Linked DNA regions of Homo sapiens: region 2 is linked to region 1. Evidence: fine-mapped expression QTL. Tissue or cell type: whole blood. Region 1 holds a variant in brackets; the other region holds the start of a gene. All regions are shown on one strand. Distances are between the middles of the regions.

What was found. PIP is the estimated chance that this variant, and not a neighbour inherited with it, causes the effect.
Region 2: it holds the start of ITPKB-IT1, and the variant in region 1 is fine-mapped to the expression of ITPKB-IT1 in whole blood (INTERVAL, PIP above 0.99).

What each region holds. Positions count from the first base shown.
Region 1 is chr1:226,644,288-226,652,464 of GRCh38, reverse strand. ITPKB (inositol-trisphosphate 3-kinase B) reads left to right here. Exons shown (of 8, transcript NM_002221.4): 3 at 3,694-3,793; 4 at 5,085-5,298. Among named protein-coding and RNA genes, the nearest start is that of ITPKB-IT1, 27 kb to the left of the region's middle. RefSeq lists enhancers at 2,438-2,527, 4,794-5,685, 7,352-8,017, 8,128-8,177 and silencers at 2,323-2,617, 5,806-6,006, 7,777-7,999. The variant T/CAT (reference allele first, on the strand shown) is at 3,103.
Region 2 is chr1:226,671,305-226,679,481 of GRCh38, reverse strand. ITPKB-IT1 (ITPKB intronic transcript 1) reads left to right here and starts at 4,414. Exons shown (of 2, transcript NR_103784.1): 1 at 4,414-4,565. All of the region lies in intron 2 of ITPKB (inositol-trisphosphate 3-kinase B), which reads left to right. RefSeq lists a silencer at 3,283-3,432.

The DNA of each region.
Region 1 (8,177 bases):
GGTTGTCCTCCTTTCTTGCCTTGTTACCTGTCTTATCTGGGGGATGAGGCCTGGAGTCCATTTCTGAGGACTGGGGCTTCCTCCAGCCAGTGCTTGGAGGGAGGGCTGTTAGCCTGTCCGCTCCTGGAAAGCGGCGTGTGCCTGGAGTGGATTTGGTTCCTGAGGCAGATGCTGTGGTCTCCCCGACCATCACAAGGACATTGATTCTCTGGAATCTCCTCCCATCCTTTAGTTCATCTCTGCTCCTAGGGGCTAGGCTGGAGTGGTTGGGGTCACCCTGCAGCCCTCCTTCCCTCCTTCCCCCAGCCTGGACCTGGAAATGGCTTTTTCTGTTTACTGCTTGGCAGTGACATTAGGCACTGCCTGGGTGCTGCTATTTAAAAACCATGGGGAAACCCTGTGTGCTGCTGCTGGCAGAGAGAAAAGAGGTCTCCAGTGCAAGTGCATGGCATTCTCACAAGTGGAATATTCCACGGCCCTCATCCAGGCAGAGCAGCCTTGGGACTGGGGGACTCTCAGGGCCTTGGCCACGTGGGACCTATTTTCATGGTGAAGAAATGGAGGAGGTGTGGGCAGAGGGGAGCCAAGCGGTAAAGGTGCCTGGTTTGGTCAGAGCTCAGCGATGTGAGAGGCTTGTGGATCCTTTGAACTGTCAGAAGACCCCCACCCTGGAGCACCCCCTCCTTTCTAGACCCCTGGTCTTTAGCCTCTGGGAGAGGTCCAAGAACTGGAAGTTTCTTAGCTTCAAATGGCCTTGCAGAGGCTAAGCCACACTGTCTCGCCCAGCATCTGTTCACCTTCCTGGGTCACAGGCTCCCTGCTCACTGTGTCTTGTGGGTCTCTGGAGAGCTGCACCCCAACAGGATGGGCATGACCCTGCCCCAGGCTCCGAGGTCTTTATTGTTCAGAACCTAGGCCAGCAACTCCACCTAGCACAGGACTGACCATTCTTGAAGTAACTTCAGAGACACCTGGGTCCCCTCCTTGAACACAGAGGGCTAAAGACCCTCCCACAGACACCCTGGTACCCACATCTCCTGACAGCTTTATCTCCTGGGAGAATGGGAATCTATGTGTCGCTCTTTTTACAAACAAGGACTAAGAACTTGTTCAAGGTCAGTCATTGAGGAGGAAAAGGGGAGCCGGGACTCGGGCCCAGGTTGGCCTGCCTCAACGCCCCACGCTCTCCCGAGGCCTCGCCTGCTCACCTATCTCCCTCTGTCTGCAGCCCCCATGCCCATAGCAGGTCTGGTTCCCAACCACTCCCAGTTCCAGTCCCCGGGCCTTTGTCCCCACACTCCCGCTGCCAGCTGTAGTCTTCTCTTTCTCTCCACTGAGTCTGGCCCCCAGCTGTCTCTGGTGGGTGCAGCCTCCGTAAGCTCCCTCCTTCTCCACAGTGAGCTGCCTTCTAGGGTCCTGGGACCCTTCCTCCATGCATGCTCATTTGCCTCCTCCTGTATACATAAAATATAAACTGGCACGCTGCAGCTGGGAGAGTAGCCCTCTCTAGTCTTCCTCGGAGGGGCCATTGCTGTTGGGATGAGGGAAGGTCACTTTCCAGGGCCCTAGAGTGTCCATCCATCCAAGGAGCCTGGTATACCAGCTGTCTGTCCCTCACCGGACACAGGAAACTGAGGCCCCAGGAGGGACTGTGAAACAGTGCAATGTGTGTTCTCCCCTGATAGGGACATGGCATGGGTTAGGGCGAGCCCTGGATTGAGACACTCTGGGCTCCCCTCCTCCCACACCACCCCTGAAGCCTGTCAGCCCCTGTCCTCTCTGAGCTCTGCTGCAGGGATGTGACCCACGGGTGGTGACCGGCTGTGCACTCTCCCCCTGGACCCACCGTAATGGCTTCCCCCTGAGCAGGGGCGTCCCCACGAGCCACTGCTGGGCTCATCTTGTGTAATGAGGTTTTTCCATTGTTGCCCTCATGCATTGTGTGCCCTGATTGTTTATGCAGCCTTCTGGGTGCTTAGATAAGAAATGCCTCCGCTGGCTCTAGCCTTCTTTGGCGATCTCCATCAGAAGGATCTAGGAAAAACATCCTTGTCAGTAAAGCCTCGGCCCTTTTGTCACATGGCCTCATGGGGCGCTGCCCTCTCTTAAGAATAGAATTGGTCTTGGCGGTGGGGTGAGAGTTTCTGGGATGGGGATAAGAATTACCAGGTTTAGTAAGGAAGAATTCCTCTCCTTAAATAGATTTTAACTTGAAAACCTGATGACAGAAGCGGCTGAGTCTCAGCAAAGAGAGAAAAAACAAAGGAGGCCGATTTCACCTTGACTTCACCTTGGGGACCCAGCAGCCGCCGCTGACCCCTGAGGGCTGCAGCTGGGCGCTTCGGGGCAAGGAGTGGGAACCACATCTTCAGTGTGTCCCCCTGTCAGGCAGTACCACCCTCATCTCCTCTGCAAGCCACATGGCTTCTGCTCTCCGTGGTTTAGCTGGTCCAGGATCCACTTTCTCAGGAACTCACAATGCTTCTCATTCAGGTTCTCATCGCCCCCCTGAGGACGGGTGTATTTTGGGGACACTTGATCTTCATCTCTGCAGCCTGTTCTTATTAAAGTTCACTTAAGGATATTTTTTCTAAAAATATGTTTTTTTTTTGTTTTTTTGTTTTGTTTTGTTTGTTTTTGCTGGGGAAGAAAAGAATTTTATTAATTTTATTTATTTTCAAGTAGTTGTATAAATGAATGTTTAAATCCCAGCTTCGTCATTTACCTCTCTGAGGCTCAGGCTCCACCAGATGGAAATAGAAAAGAATTGACTTGCATGCTCATTGAGAAAATAAAATAAGATGCTCAATATACCTTAGTTCTCCTTTCTGCCCAAAGGGCCTGCTCTCCCCAAACACACATGCACGCACACACATGCACACGCACACACTCATGCACACATATGTGCATATCACACACGCATGCACACACATGCACACATCACACACATGCACATATCACGCATGCACACACTGATGCACACATATGCACATACATGCACATATCACACATGCACACACACGCACACATACGCACACACTCATGCACATATCACACATGCACACACACTCATGCACACATGCACACAATCACATGCACACA[T/CAT]GCACATATATCACATATGCACACATACGCACACACTCATGCACACATATGCACACACACATGCACACACACGCACACACACATGCACACTCCCAGTCCTGGCTGTTTTCACTGAAGAAACATCCTGAGAGGGCGGAGCGCGGTGCAGAGGAGAGAGCTGTGGGCTTGCTCCCTCCTGTGTGACCTGAAGCCATCGGTGCAGGTTCTGTTCTGAGGAATTTCTTTAAAGTCTCTCTTCAAACCACTCGCAGGCAAGAGGTGCCTCTGGTGCCTCCGCATCTACGAATTGAATATGAACTAATGTGGTGCGGCTGGGTGGTTGTGTCCTCTCCAGCCTTCCTTGGAGGGGTCGTTGCTCTTGGGACAGGGGAGTTCCCCTGAGCATTTTGCTCAGGCTGTTTGTTAAATGGGGTAAAGCCACCTCCCACCATGTGCCGCATAGGTGATGGTGGTGGCAAGGTCCTCAGAGCCCGTCAAGGGCCCTTCCCATCTTGTGGCCACAGGCAATGAGGGCCTTTGCTTTGAATTTGTCCTAACCAGAAATTAGTGGTTGTCTTTCTAATGTAGAGCTTTTTGTTTGTTTGTTTCTAGAGCAAATCATGGAGGAAGATAAAAAACATGGTGCACTGGTCTCCCTTCGTCATGTCCTTCAAGAAGAAGTACCCCTGGATCCAGCTGGCAGGACACGCAGGTAGACACAGCTCTCCCAGACTTTCCCAGCATGGTGCTCAGCCCTCTGGGGAGGTGCCCTGGACGCTGCATTCTGGGGATCAAAGCTCCAGAGCAAGTTCCCTCCAAGACTTTCTAGTCTGAAATCACAGCCACACTTGCAGGCTGCGGCCTTACCAATGCCTTGTAAATGCCATAGACAACGGACCTCTCTGGAGTCTGTGTTACCCCATCCTCCAAAACATGCATCCTCCCCTCCCTCGGTCTCTGGCTCTTATCTCTGTCTCTTCCAGTCTCTTTCTTTCTGTCTCTCTTCCCGTTGTATTCAATAAGACAGATGAAGCCATCAGTCTTTATAGCTTACCTGCCATTTGTCACCCTGGACAAAGAGGCAAAGCTAACCCCTTCATTGAGCACCTACTGTGTGCCTAAATTGCCATGGTCCTGGGGGTTGCGGCATTAATGGAGATGTAGTTTCTGCCCTGAGGGAGCCTGCAGCTGGTGGAAGATGCGGCCAAGCCACCCCATAACTGCAGGGCGGTGTGCGGTGTTGGGAGGAAGGTGGCTAGGAGCTGAGTCCAGGCAGTGCCGGGGAGAAGGGACATCTGGAGCCGAGGCCCCAGAGCCATCTAGCCCACATGTAGGACCCTCTGGAAGCACTGTCATCTGGAGACATGTCAGGGGCTGCCTGTGGACTTGGCCTTCGTGACTTCACCAGCCTCCTCAGGCCAGCACAAGGTCCCGCATTTCGCTTACCTCGTTGGCCACACTGGCCCAACTCAAGGCACATGGATGGACAGCCTGTGTGAATACTTACTTGGTCTGGCTCAGAAGAAGTGCCACCCAGGTGGGCTGAGCCTTAGGCCCCCCAGCTTCTCAGCCTGCTGTATCTCCCCACCTTGGCTCTGAATCCTGTCCAATCAGGGTTTCTCTACTGAGGCCAGGAGACACCTTCGTTGCCGAGAAGCAGGGCTGATGATGGAGGTGAGGATGAAAATAGCAACACTAAGGAATGACTGGGTCGTGGCACCTCAGTCTCTCACCTAGCTCTGTACCCTTCCAGCAGGGAACACTGGTGAGGAGGAGTCTGGAGTCAAGGAAGCTGGGGAACCAGCTCAGAATTACAGTTAGTGAGTGGGGACTAGGTCTTGAACCCACTCCCCTTAAGGTGCTCAGTCCATAGCAGGGACATAGACACACCTTCAGCCCCAGGCTTAGCCATCCCCAGGGAGGCCCAGACCCTGTGCTGGGGAGGGTGCCTCTGCCAGCTACCTGCAGCCGGAGACCAGGAACCTTCTACACTTGCTCTCCAGGGAGTTTCAAGGCAGCTGCCAATGGCAGGATCCTGAAGAAGCACTGTGAGTCAGAGCAGCGCTGCCTGGACCGGCTGATGGTGGATGTGCTGAGGCCCTTCGTACCTGCCTACCATGGGGATGTGGTGAAGGACGGGGAGCGCTACAACCAGATGGACGACCTGCTGGCCGACTTCGACTCGCCCTGTGTGATGGACTGCAAGATGGGAATCAGGTGAGCCAGGCTTCTCGCAGCCCACATGCCTGCCTCAGTGCAAGCCACATGGCAGGTGCACAGCGTGGCACTCAGGGCTTCCCGGAGGCCTCACAGGTGCAAGGGCAGGCTGAGGAGGCTGTTGGACCAATTAGAGCCTCCCCATCCCCAGGCATCTCCCATTATTTGCAGAGGGTTCCGGGACCTGGGCTTTGCCCATGATGGCCCCTTTCCTTCTCCAGTGAGCAGAAGCCAGGGGCTGGCGGAACCAGAAAAAGGGCACCGGCTGGGTTCTGAGGCCCCCTAGAGAGAAGGAAGAGAGAGCTGCCCTTGGTTCAGGTGGGATCGCTGGGGGTGCGGGGAGCCACCAGGTAGGGAGGTCGCAGGATGGTGACTTCCTGCTGTGTGAGCTGCAGGGGAGATGGGAATCGAGGTCTTTCCATTTCCCCAGCCCTGGTGAGTGGGAAGAGAGAGTGGCTAGTAGAACATGCTGGTTTCCCAAAAAAGACCTGTATCTGCCTAAAAGGAGGAGGAAGCCCCTGACGGAACTCAAGAAACCCACATGGCAGGTCACCGCAGGGCCCCAGGTGAGCCCGGAGCAGTCACTGGGCCTGTGTGCAGGACTGGCTCCCACCCCCAGGTTCCTGACAGGGGCTCAGGCTCACCCTGACACCTGCCCAGGGGATAAGCCTGGAGAGGACTCCAGGGAAGAGGAGAGAGGAAGAGGGGGCTTGAGGAGGCAGGGCAGAGAGCAGACAGGGATGCCTGAGGCCGGCTGCTGTGATCTCGGGGCTCAGTTTTAGGCAGCCGGGTTTTCTCATTACCTCTCAAACTGCTGCCCTTCCACCCTGAGTCATCCACAGCACGGCTCCTTCTCCCCTGTGCAGGCTTGGTGAACCTCCCTAAGGCTGTCGGCCCCCATGGTGTCCAGCGTGCGGTGCTCATGTTGTGGGGCTGGCCCTCACTGCAGCACCCGGGCTGGACGGCCAGATGCCAAGCCCCCCCATGCTTCCTTGCAGGGCTGTCTGGGAGGCCAGGCACGGAGACTCAGAGCTCAGAGCAGAAGGCTGTGTCCACTGTGACTGGTTTAACCGGATTATTTCTCATAAGAGCAGATTGAGAAAGAGGGGTGTGTGTGTGAGAGAGAGAGAGACAGAGACAGAGGCCAGGAGAGAAGAGAGCTAAGCCAGCCAGCATTTCTTTCCTTCTTTCCTTTCTTCTCTCTCCTCCTGGGAGTTCTGTCCTAAAATCACACCCTGCCACTGACTGTTGTGTTCTCTCGCCATCACTCACAGGGAAAGAATGGGGGATGGAGAAGCACAGGCCCCACTGTTTGCTCTTGAGCCATCCCTGGCCACCTCCCTCCCACCATCCAAGTTCCTTACTATCTTTAGCCCACAGGGACCTGGGATAGGGCAGGGAGGAGAAAGAACATGCCCCCAGCCAGCCCGAGGCCTTTGCTTTTCCCGAGTCTGATTTCTGACCCAGGATGGCATCCACTGGTGCACCAGAATGTGTCCTCTCAGGGGAGGCCCAGCCCTTCCTTCCAACCCAGACAGCAGCAGGACTTCGCAGGTGACCACATGGAGAATAATCCAAGTGGTGTCCACTCAGACCTGGCCAAAAAAGTACGGCCTGTGTGAAGAACACTGGCTGGGCATTTCTGGAAGTCGGCTGTCCCAAAGACACAGCCAGCCAAGCACAGGGCCAGGCTGCCCCAGAACCTGCCTGCTCCTGCTGGGGACAGGAGCCCCGCTTCCTGCCCCAGGGCTGCCCCCACCCAGCCGCTTGACTTCCGCAGCTTCTCTCTGATTGCACCCTAGTGCTCTCAAGAGAGATCTAGAGTGACCGTGGCTGGTACCCATGTAACCCATCTTGGCAGGCAGAGGGAAGAGGATGAGAGAGGAGTATGTGTGGAGGGGAAGAGGAAGGTCTCCCCAGAAGCAGGGTGCACCCAGCCCGATCTTTCCTGCACACAAATCCTAAGGACCCTTCTTGTTCCAAGGGCTATGCTAGATGCTTCCATTATTTATCCCATTGCGTTCTCACCGCCATTCTGGGAGATGGGTCATGTTCCAGTGTAAGCAGGAGGGTTCTGTCACCAGGAGGTTCAGTGACTCATCAGGGCCACCCAGCCAGGCAGCAGCTTGGTGCAGTTCTGCACCAGGCTTGCTTGACTGCAAATCAGGCCCCCAGCTGCAGCCCAGCCCTTCCCAAGGGGGCTGTGTGGGACCCAGCTTCCATGGCATTTCCCTGGGGTGCCAGGCTAGTTCCATTTGGGCCATGGACTGTGCCTTCCCCCAAATGCGTTCATCCAGAACCCTTGGCTGCAGGGCCTCTCCCAAGACTGGCTGCTCATGGTCACCTCTAGAATGTGGCCTTTCCATGACAGGGTGAGGAGGCTGGAGCCCAGGGTTACCTCACATGCTGAGTCCCAGGGCAAGAGAGTTTGAGACATGTCACAGAGAAAGGGAAGGGCCGGTCACCAAACAATGCTGGGCATGGCGGGGGCAGAAGGGTGGCACTAAGGAGAATGTGATGCAGTTGCTGGTGGCGTCTGCACGTCGGGGCTTCTTGGGACTCTGGCTCCCGCCGACATGTGCTCAGTGGCTCTGGGGCATGCTCTGAGATTTGTGACTTGTCCTGGAGAGTCAACACTGTCTTCCTGACATTGGGACCAGGGGCCTGGGGAGTGCAGGTGAGAGCCCGCCCCTAGCACCTAGGAGCTCTGGGTGGCTTTCGCCTGCCACCTGTTGGCTCCCTGGGCTGGCCTGTCTCAAAGGAGCACTTCCTCCACCTGATCTTGAGTCCCCTCCTCCCCCAGCGTCCTGTGAGTGGGCGAGCAGGTCTCTGCTTCCCTGCATGGCTTGGAGCTTCGACTTTGTCTCGGGCAGGCAGGG
Region 2 (8,177 bases), 27 kb before region 1:
ATGTGGTTAATCTTTCCACTTTCTGGACTGAGACAGAAGTGACACAACTTTCTTGGGGTTTCCAAATTAGCTGCAGAGCTGGAACCAGAAGAACTCAAAGAGTTCTGCTTCTGAAGTCAGGGTCCTCCCAAAACTCCAGGAGCATGGAATATCAGAGTTCACTTTTAGGTCAGAGATTTTAAATAAGATCAAAAGCAGAAAAGGGAAGAGGGGAGACAGGGAGCCACATCTGAAAAGGGGCAATTTTCTTTGGAATTTTGGTACATTTTAATTCCTTTTTACAGATGGAAACAAAGTGACATTTTTAAGAATTCTGAATAGACGCTGTCAGCCATTGGAACAAAACACCTGCAGGAAGAGATACTGGGAGGCAGGGAGCTCTATCTTAGAGAGGCACCCAGTTCTTTGGGATATGAGCGCCAGTCTCTGCACAAGTTGACCCCAGGGACTCCCCTAGCCTGAGTGCTGGCGTCAGTGCTTCCCCGCAGGCCTGCCTTCTAGGCAACCATGTGGTCTCTTCCTCATCAGTAGCCCTCCGCAGAGGCGTGCTCCCTGAGATGCCCCTCTTTCTGACATCCACTCTGGGCCTGTGGTTCTCTTGCTGGGAGTATTGATACCTCTATTGTCACTTCCTGGGAGGCCTTCTCTTCACACAGGAAACCTCCTTCCTGACAGCAGAGAGCGGCCTAGAATAAGCCTATCATGAACACCGTTGTCAAGACCACGTAAAAAGCTCACCAAAGCCTTATCCCAGTCCTGGCTCCTTTTGGAATAGATAATTCTCCCTTTTTCTCTCTGGCCAGGACTGATAATGATAATAATAATGAACACTTAGGTAGTGTTTAGTGCTAGACACTTTACATTTTAATCTACACAGTGTCCCAAATTCATTTCACAGGTGAGGAAACCAATGGGGCACAGATAAGCTTGCCTGAAGTCACAGCTATGAAGAACAGAGCCAGAATTCACACTCAGCCTGGCTCCAGAGACCATGTTCCTAACCACTAGACTAGACTAATCAGCCTGCTCCAGGGGCTCGGCCTCTGCCCTCAGTGGCAGCACTCTATTTGAGGTCTGCAGCCATCTGCAGGGGATTTGATTTTCCTCCCCCTTTAGGGAAAGCAAGTCTGGGGTCACTGTGGCTCCTTTGCCCTCTCCTAAGTTTGCATGGCAGCCAGTTTTCATTTTGTGTCGTTTTATTTTCCATAGGCCACATTTATCATATTTAATAACCAAATGTTATTTGGTTATTGGTTATTTTGTAAAATTCTTCACATGAATAACATTAGAAAAATAGTCTTTGTTAGCGTCCATGTCCTGGTTTGGTATTTGGACAAATTGTGGAGGTGTGGCCAGAGAGTATATTCTGGAGTTGGACAAATCTATCCAAATCTAGACTCTACTATTGACTGGCAACATGTCTTTCTTTTTTTTAATTCCTTCGTTTCATGGTTTTCAATGTATTCAAGTAATGCCTGTACAAGCTTGATATAGCACGTTAAATAATGCACGCGAAATACCTGTACAAGTGAAATAATACAAGATGCATGAAGGTGAAGCTCCTCGTCTCCTCCTTCAGTCCTGTCCCTCTCAATCAGCATTAGCCACGTTCTCCAGGGCAGCCTGCTGAGCCTCCACATGGTTGTTTTCCTGCCTATAACAGGAGGCGAACGCCCTGTGATGTATGTAATGGGTGCTCTTTCAGTGGTAGTCATTGTTATGAGGAGGGAACACATGTGCATTAGGGCTGCAGTAAGTTGCATTTTTGCCATGGGAAGAGAAATTCTCCACCTTTCCCGTCAGTTTCTCTTTGCTTCTCCATCTTGCAGCCTCTGGCACAGCCCAGAGTCCAGTGGTATCCGGCAGAAGCAGTGCTGTGCAGCTCTGAGCTGGGCCCTTAAGGGGAAGAGGGAGTACCTCCAGCAATATTCAGGGTGGATGTGGGTTCCAGGGCTTCTGATCCTGGGGCTGGGCTTGTCTGAGATTCACAGGAGGTTAGAGAACTAAGGAGGAAGGGGAGAAGGCTTTAACCCACCCCTCTGCTGTCTCTCTCTGGAGGAAACCTCAGGCAGCTCTGTGTACTTCCCCCTCTGCACACACACCTCTTCCTGCCTTCTCTACCCTGACACCAAGGTCTCTCCCCAGCCCTGGTGGCATCGTGCCTGGGTTGCTAATAATAGAGAAGGGTGAATCTGCCAGGCAGTGAATCAGAAGGCTGTCCCAGCTCTGTTCTTCTGCCCTGATCCTGGCAAATTCTTGTGGGCTGATTCGGTAAATATCCTTGTGAGCAGAATAAGTCTTTGTGTGTTCTGGAAACTCCTGCTGTCCCTGGGGGTAACACCCTCTTGGAAGGATGATGGGGATGCCTTTGGCCTCAAGATCTTAGGACGGCGTTTCAAATTGCTCCAGGCTTCCAAGCTAGCCTGGGCTCTGGGAGGAGGGTTTGCAGGTTTGGAGAAGGAGCTGCTTCCCAGGTGCTCAGGGGATGGAAGTGAGAATAGGGAGGGTGTGGAGGGTACAAAGAGACTGTTTAGTTCTTGCGTAAAAGACAACACAATATGGTCCTTCCAGTTCTTTTTAGAGCTCAAAAGGTGAAATAAGAATAAAGAACAGCGATCTGCAGTTTTCCTATTATCCAAAAGCCTACTACCCAATTCAGTGGATTGTTTTGGCAACTTGCTTGGATAAACTTATTTAGAAATTATTTCAGAATTCCTCCAGGCAGTTACCCTACGTCCTTTTTAAGTCAAGGTGTGGTATAAGTCCATTAACGAATTAAAATACTTCCAGATTTCTGTGTTATTCTCAAGGCACTTTTGCTAGATAACAATACCTCACACTTGGACGGTGTTTTGTGGTTTGCAAAGCACTTTCACATCTGTTTTCTCACTTGGTTGCCATAATAACCCTGGGAGCCGGGAAGGGCATGTCTTGTTATTATCCCTATTTTGCAGATGAGGAAGCCAAGGTTTTTAGAAGGTTGGGTGGCCTAGTCAAGGTCACACCGGTAGGGGAATTGGGGGGATGGAGGAAACTAGAGCTGTTTTTCCTTAACCATCTTGCCTCTCACTGAGATGAAACAGCAGGATGGTTCCTGGGACCCAGGATCCCTTTGAACGCTTGGATTAAAATAATTTATGAGTTCTTTGTGAGTGTGTGTGGACCTGCTGGTAGTGGCTTTTCTTCATTAGAATTTGCATGCAAGATTGACACTAAGATGGCTGACTTTCACCATCCCAAACCAACCCTGTTTTTGCACCGTGCTGTAGTGGTATGAATTACCTTGCAGGTAATTGTGGCTTAGGTGATGGTACACAAAAGGCATCATACAGCAGCCAGATGTTCATTTTACTAAATGGAAAATATGACTCAGAACACGGGCCAATCTGAGCCTCCAAGCAGGCAAATTAGCCATTGAGGATGAAGTCTTCACCTCTGGAGAGGAGAGAATGTGGGAGCACAGAGCCCAGAGTCAAATGATTTGGTTGAGATCCCCCCACTTTGGTTATTTAGACTTGCTTATACTCCTCTGACCAGACTATGGGATCTTCTACAGAAATTCTACAGAAGTGTGGGCAGAATTACAAGTAAGGTGGGTTGAGGAAGTGCACAGGTGGAAGTGTAGCCGAGAGGATGCGTTTGAGGAGCAAGAGGCTGGGACTCAAGAAGGCTTTATGCAGACTCGAATCTTACATTGATAACAAGCATTTGCGTAGCACATACGAGTTTCATCCTATGAAGGATTCCATAGGATTCTCACAGCAGCCCAAGGATGTGAGCAGAGCAGTAAACAATATCCCTGTTTTATAGAGGAAGTAGAAATCGAGAAGCAGGAAGGTTGGGTAATTTGCCCAAAGTTCCACCACTAGTAAATCGCAGAACTGGGACTAAAGCCCAGGTCTTCTGACCCTCACTGGGCCCAGCGTTCTTTCCAATATGTCATCCTGCCATTTTCCCCTTCCTTCCTCCTCCCCACAGCTCCTTGCAAGTTCAGCCTGCTGGAGGTAAGGGAAGTGATCATGAGAGTTTTTCCAGTGCTGAGACGTTCTGGAAAAAACATGGACCTGTATCTGTGTCCTGATCTGTGCTTCGTGATTGGACTGTCTTGACACTCGTCTCAGGACTCTGGGGAGTGCTTGTGCAAGTGTTTCCCAGTGTGGCCGGCTTCTTGAACGCTGCTAATGGAAAGTTGTAAGAGTTCTATTTTCCTGTTTCAAGCGAGCGTTTCCCCCTTGGGGTTATAGCAACCACTTCCTCCTCAGCACCCGGTGGGTCGTGGTAAACACCAGTTACAGCAGAGTATCCCCTTCTGACAACCTCATTGGTTCCTTTTTTTTTTTTTTTTTTTTTTTTTGCCTGTAAGCACATACACACAGAGTTCTGAAGGCTAGGTCTCCTTTCCTTCTGGTTTAGAGTTTTCAGAGTACCCTGCTGTGGCCTTGGAAACAGAAAACCCACACAGAGGTCAAACGCAGTTCTCGTGGAGTCACCTTGTCATCCTGCTTTGTTTTGGAAGGAACTGGGTCGGAGGCAGCACAGTAGGACTACAGCATCTTTAACCCTTGGTAGGATGGCTGGATCCGCTGAACGCTTGTGGGTAAACAGGAAGCTCACAGCCTCAGTGGATCATTAAGGGTGATACAGAATAGACACGAAAATCTTAAGTGGGATGGGAGCAGAGCAGGACTTGGTGGGTAGATAGTGAGGAAAAGGAGGCAAATAGGGATGGTGAAGAAATCGAAAGGGAATGGGGGATACAAGGAAAGGGTCAGGAAAGGGTGAGTAAAAGGTTTAAAGAGAGGTGCTAATTTTAGATACTTAAAAGTATTTTAAGTATCTAAAACTTGTGGCTGGGTGTGGTGGCTCACTCCTTTAATCCCAGCACTTTGGGAGGCCAAGGCGGGCAGATCACCTGAGGTCAGAAGTTCGAGACCAGCCTGGCCAACATAGTGAAACCCCGTCTCTAACTAAAAATACAAAAATTAGGCCAGGCACAGTGGCTCACGCCTGTAATTCCAGCACTATGGGAGGCTGAGGTGGGTGGATCACGAGGTCAGGAGTTCAAAACTAGCCTGGCCAAGATGGTGAAACCCCATCTCTACTAAAACTACAAAAATCAGCCAAGTGTGGTGGCAGGTGCCTGTAATCCCAGCTACTCGGAGGCTGAGGCAGGAGATTGGTTTGAACCTGGGAGTTGGAGGTTGCAGTGAGCCGAGATGGTGCCACTGCCCTCCAGCCTGGGCAACAGTGAGACTCTGTCTCAAAAAAAAATGTGTATATATAAATACTTAAAAAATATTTGTAATTGCTGGTTTGGGGTTACTAGAATCTCTTCTGAATCTGTCTCAGTTTTTCTTACAGCTTTTAAAATCCATGGAACTCTATCACCAGGAGATGATTGTGGTATGGAGCTGATCACCCCGGAGTTAGTGGGGTGGCAACTGAGATCGGGGGGAAATGGAGCAGTTTGAGGATATATGGGCCGTGAAAACCTCCCAGCTCTGCCCCCAGCCATGCCATGAAAGTCATGGGGAAGAAAGGCCCCCATTTGTGTGTTTGTGTTATTAAATAGAACAGTAACAGAGCAGGTCTCTGAGCCTGCCTGGCAGAAATCTTTCTGTAGCAGGAGTGTCCTGCAACTCTCTGGTGGATTTGCAAAACAGTACAGATAGAAAAACTTAAATGGGAAACAAGCTTGTCTTGTCCTACTTTGTGGAGATAGATAATAAAGCCGAAAGGCCAAGAAGTGTAAATATATAGCATATATCTAATGTATATGGTATATGTACATATCAATCTATAGCTATGCAATATCTACACTATTTATCTATGTTTATACGATGACTCTAGGCTTCAGAAGACCTGTCAAAGATTTCCATACATCTAGAGAATTTAGAAGGATCCCTTTATAGGTGAGAGTTGAGACTTTTTGGCTGCAGGTTGGGATTTGGTGGACTAGTTCCTGGTACCACCACCTAGTTGCCGTGATTATCTTTAGACTAACCAAGGCCCTTGTGTTAGCCTTCCGTAAATCATCCCCACCCCTAAGCAAGACAGCACCTATACCTTCACAGTTTCTCCAGTTCATCCCTGTTTTATTTTATTTATTGTTTTTTGAGACAGGGTCATGCTCTGTCACCCAGGCTGGAGTGCAGTGGCACGAACATGGCAGCCTCTACCCCTGTGTTCAAGCAATCCTCCTGCCTCAGCCTCCCGAGTAGCTGGGACCACAGGTGCGCGCCACCACACCTGGCTAATTTTTGTGTTTTTTATAGAGACAAGGGGTCTCACCATGTTGCCCAGGCTGGTCTTGAACTCCTGGCCTCAAGCAGTCCTCCTGCCTCAGCCTCCCAAAGTGTTGGGATTACAGGCATGAGCTACTGCATCCGGCCCATCCCTGTTTAAATGGGAATATCCAGAAGATTGTCCTTGTCATACACTCGGTGCATTTTAGAGTGTCTTCACCACTTGTCAGAAACAGGATTCTGGTTGGGAAGGGCCATCATTCACAGTGTGGCAGGTTTTTGCTTTGTTAATTACTGGAATTGGGGTACAGAAGCCAAATGCAGGTTCTCCACCTGGGACCTTCTTCCTGTTTGTCTGCCCACTTCACACCTGTCTTAGCAGCTGCAGCCTGAAATAGTGAGATGGCTACATTGCCTGATCAAATCTGGGATTTATGTAGTGATAACACCTCCCAGGAGATAGATTTCTTCGCCCTACCCCAGTGCTTCCCACACATGCCCATGGACCAGCTCTTTATCTCTGGCATGAAGATTCCTCCCACTTCCCTGTTGCTGAGATCCTTAGGCCTTTAGAGGGCAATTCTTTCAGCAGGGATTGCAGCTCCAGGTTAGAGTGGGAGTGAGAAGAAGCCATATGCCTCACACCGAAAGACAGCCGTGGTCTTGTCGACCTAATATCTGAGCCAAGGTGGAGGACAGCTGCCCAGGACACACTTCCAAGTTGCCTTGGGGAGTGCTCTGTTTGGCCTTTGTTACAAGCAGGTTTTCAAAGGCAAAAGGAACAAGGAAGTGGGCTGATACAAAGTTGTTTGACAGGAATCCTCCCTGGTTTACAGAGATAACATTGGATAGTGATTGCTCTACACTGTTGAACTATGGAGTACGAGTGATGGTGTCAAGCATATGTCATTTTATGGCTACTTAGCATCAGTTAGTCTTGAGCCCACATAGCAAGTGGCTTCAAGAGGTGATTATTTAGCTCAGGCGGGGAGTGAGACGTGATCGCTGTCACACGCTGTCACATTTCGGTGCCTCTCTGGGTTTGATAATTAAAGGGGGCTTGGATTCTCAGATAAAAAATTTTTATTTCTCAGTCTAAAATGGAGAGTTTTAAAAAAATCCATCTTCCTCTCTCACTTGGACAATTACAGCAGCTTCAAAATGGATCTTTCTTGTTTTCACCCTTTCTCGCCTGCTTTCTGTTCCCCAGGTGTACACACAGAAGCAGCGTGAGCCTTTTAGAACATAAGCCAGACTATGACACTCCTCACTCAAAACCCTCCAGCAGCTTCCTATCTCACTGACATAAAATCCGAAGTCCTAAGAACAGCCTAAAAAACTCTGCAAGAACTGACCTCATATGTGATATATTCTCCTCTTTGTTTACTCTGTTCCAGCCACTTTGCTGTTCCTGCTGGCCTTTGAAGCTGCCCACACACCTGTCTCAAAGCCTGTGCACTTGACCGCTCCCTCTGTCTGCAGTGCCATACCCTCTGCCTGTGTATGGCTCAGCCCCTCACTTCCTGCAGAAAGACCATGGCCAACTAAGCCAGCACACCCCTCTCCCCGCCTCCCTGGGGTTCTCCCTTTTCCCCTACCTGGCTTTATTTATCTTCAGGATGCTCATAGCTGCCTGATGCAATATGTCTTTATTTGTTTATCATCTGCCTGTCCCCACTTAGAATGTAAGCTGCTTTAAGGATAGGGACTTCGTTGTGTTCACTGCTAAATCACCTGCGGCTAGAACAGTGGCACATCTGTAAATATTTGTCCAACAGTGAATGCATGTGTGCATGCATGCGTGAATCCATTAGCAACAGCATTTATTGGGTTCTTTTACTTGGCATCACATTTGTAGCAAGGAGTACAAAGATGGATTCCACGGTCCCTGCCCTCAGGGGCTCACTCCTTTGATCTGTTCTTTGTGGAAGG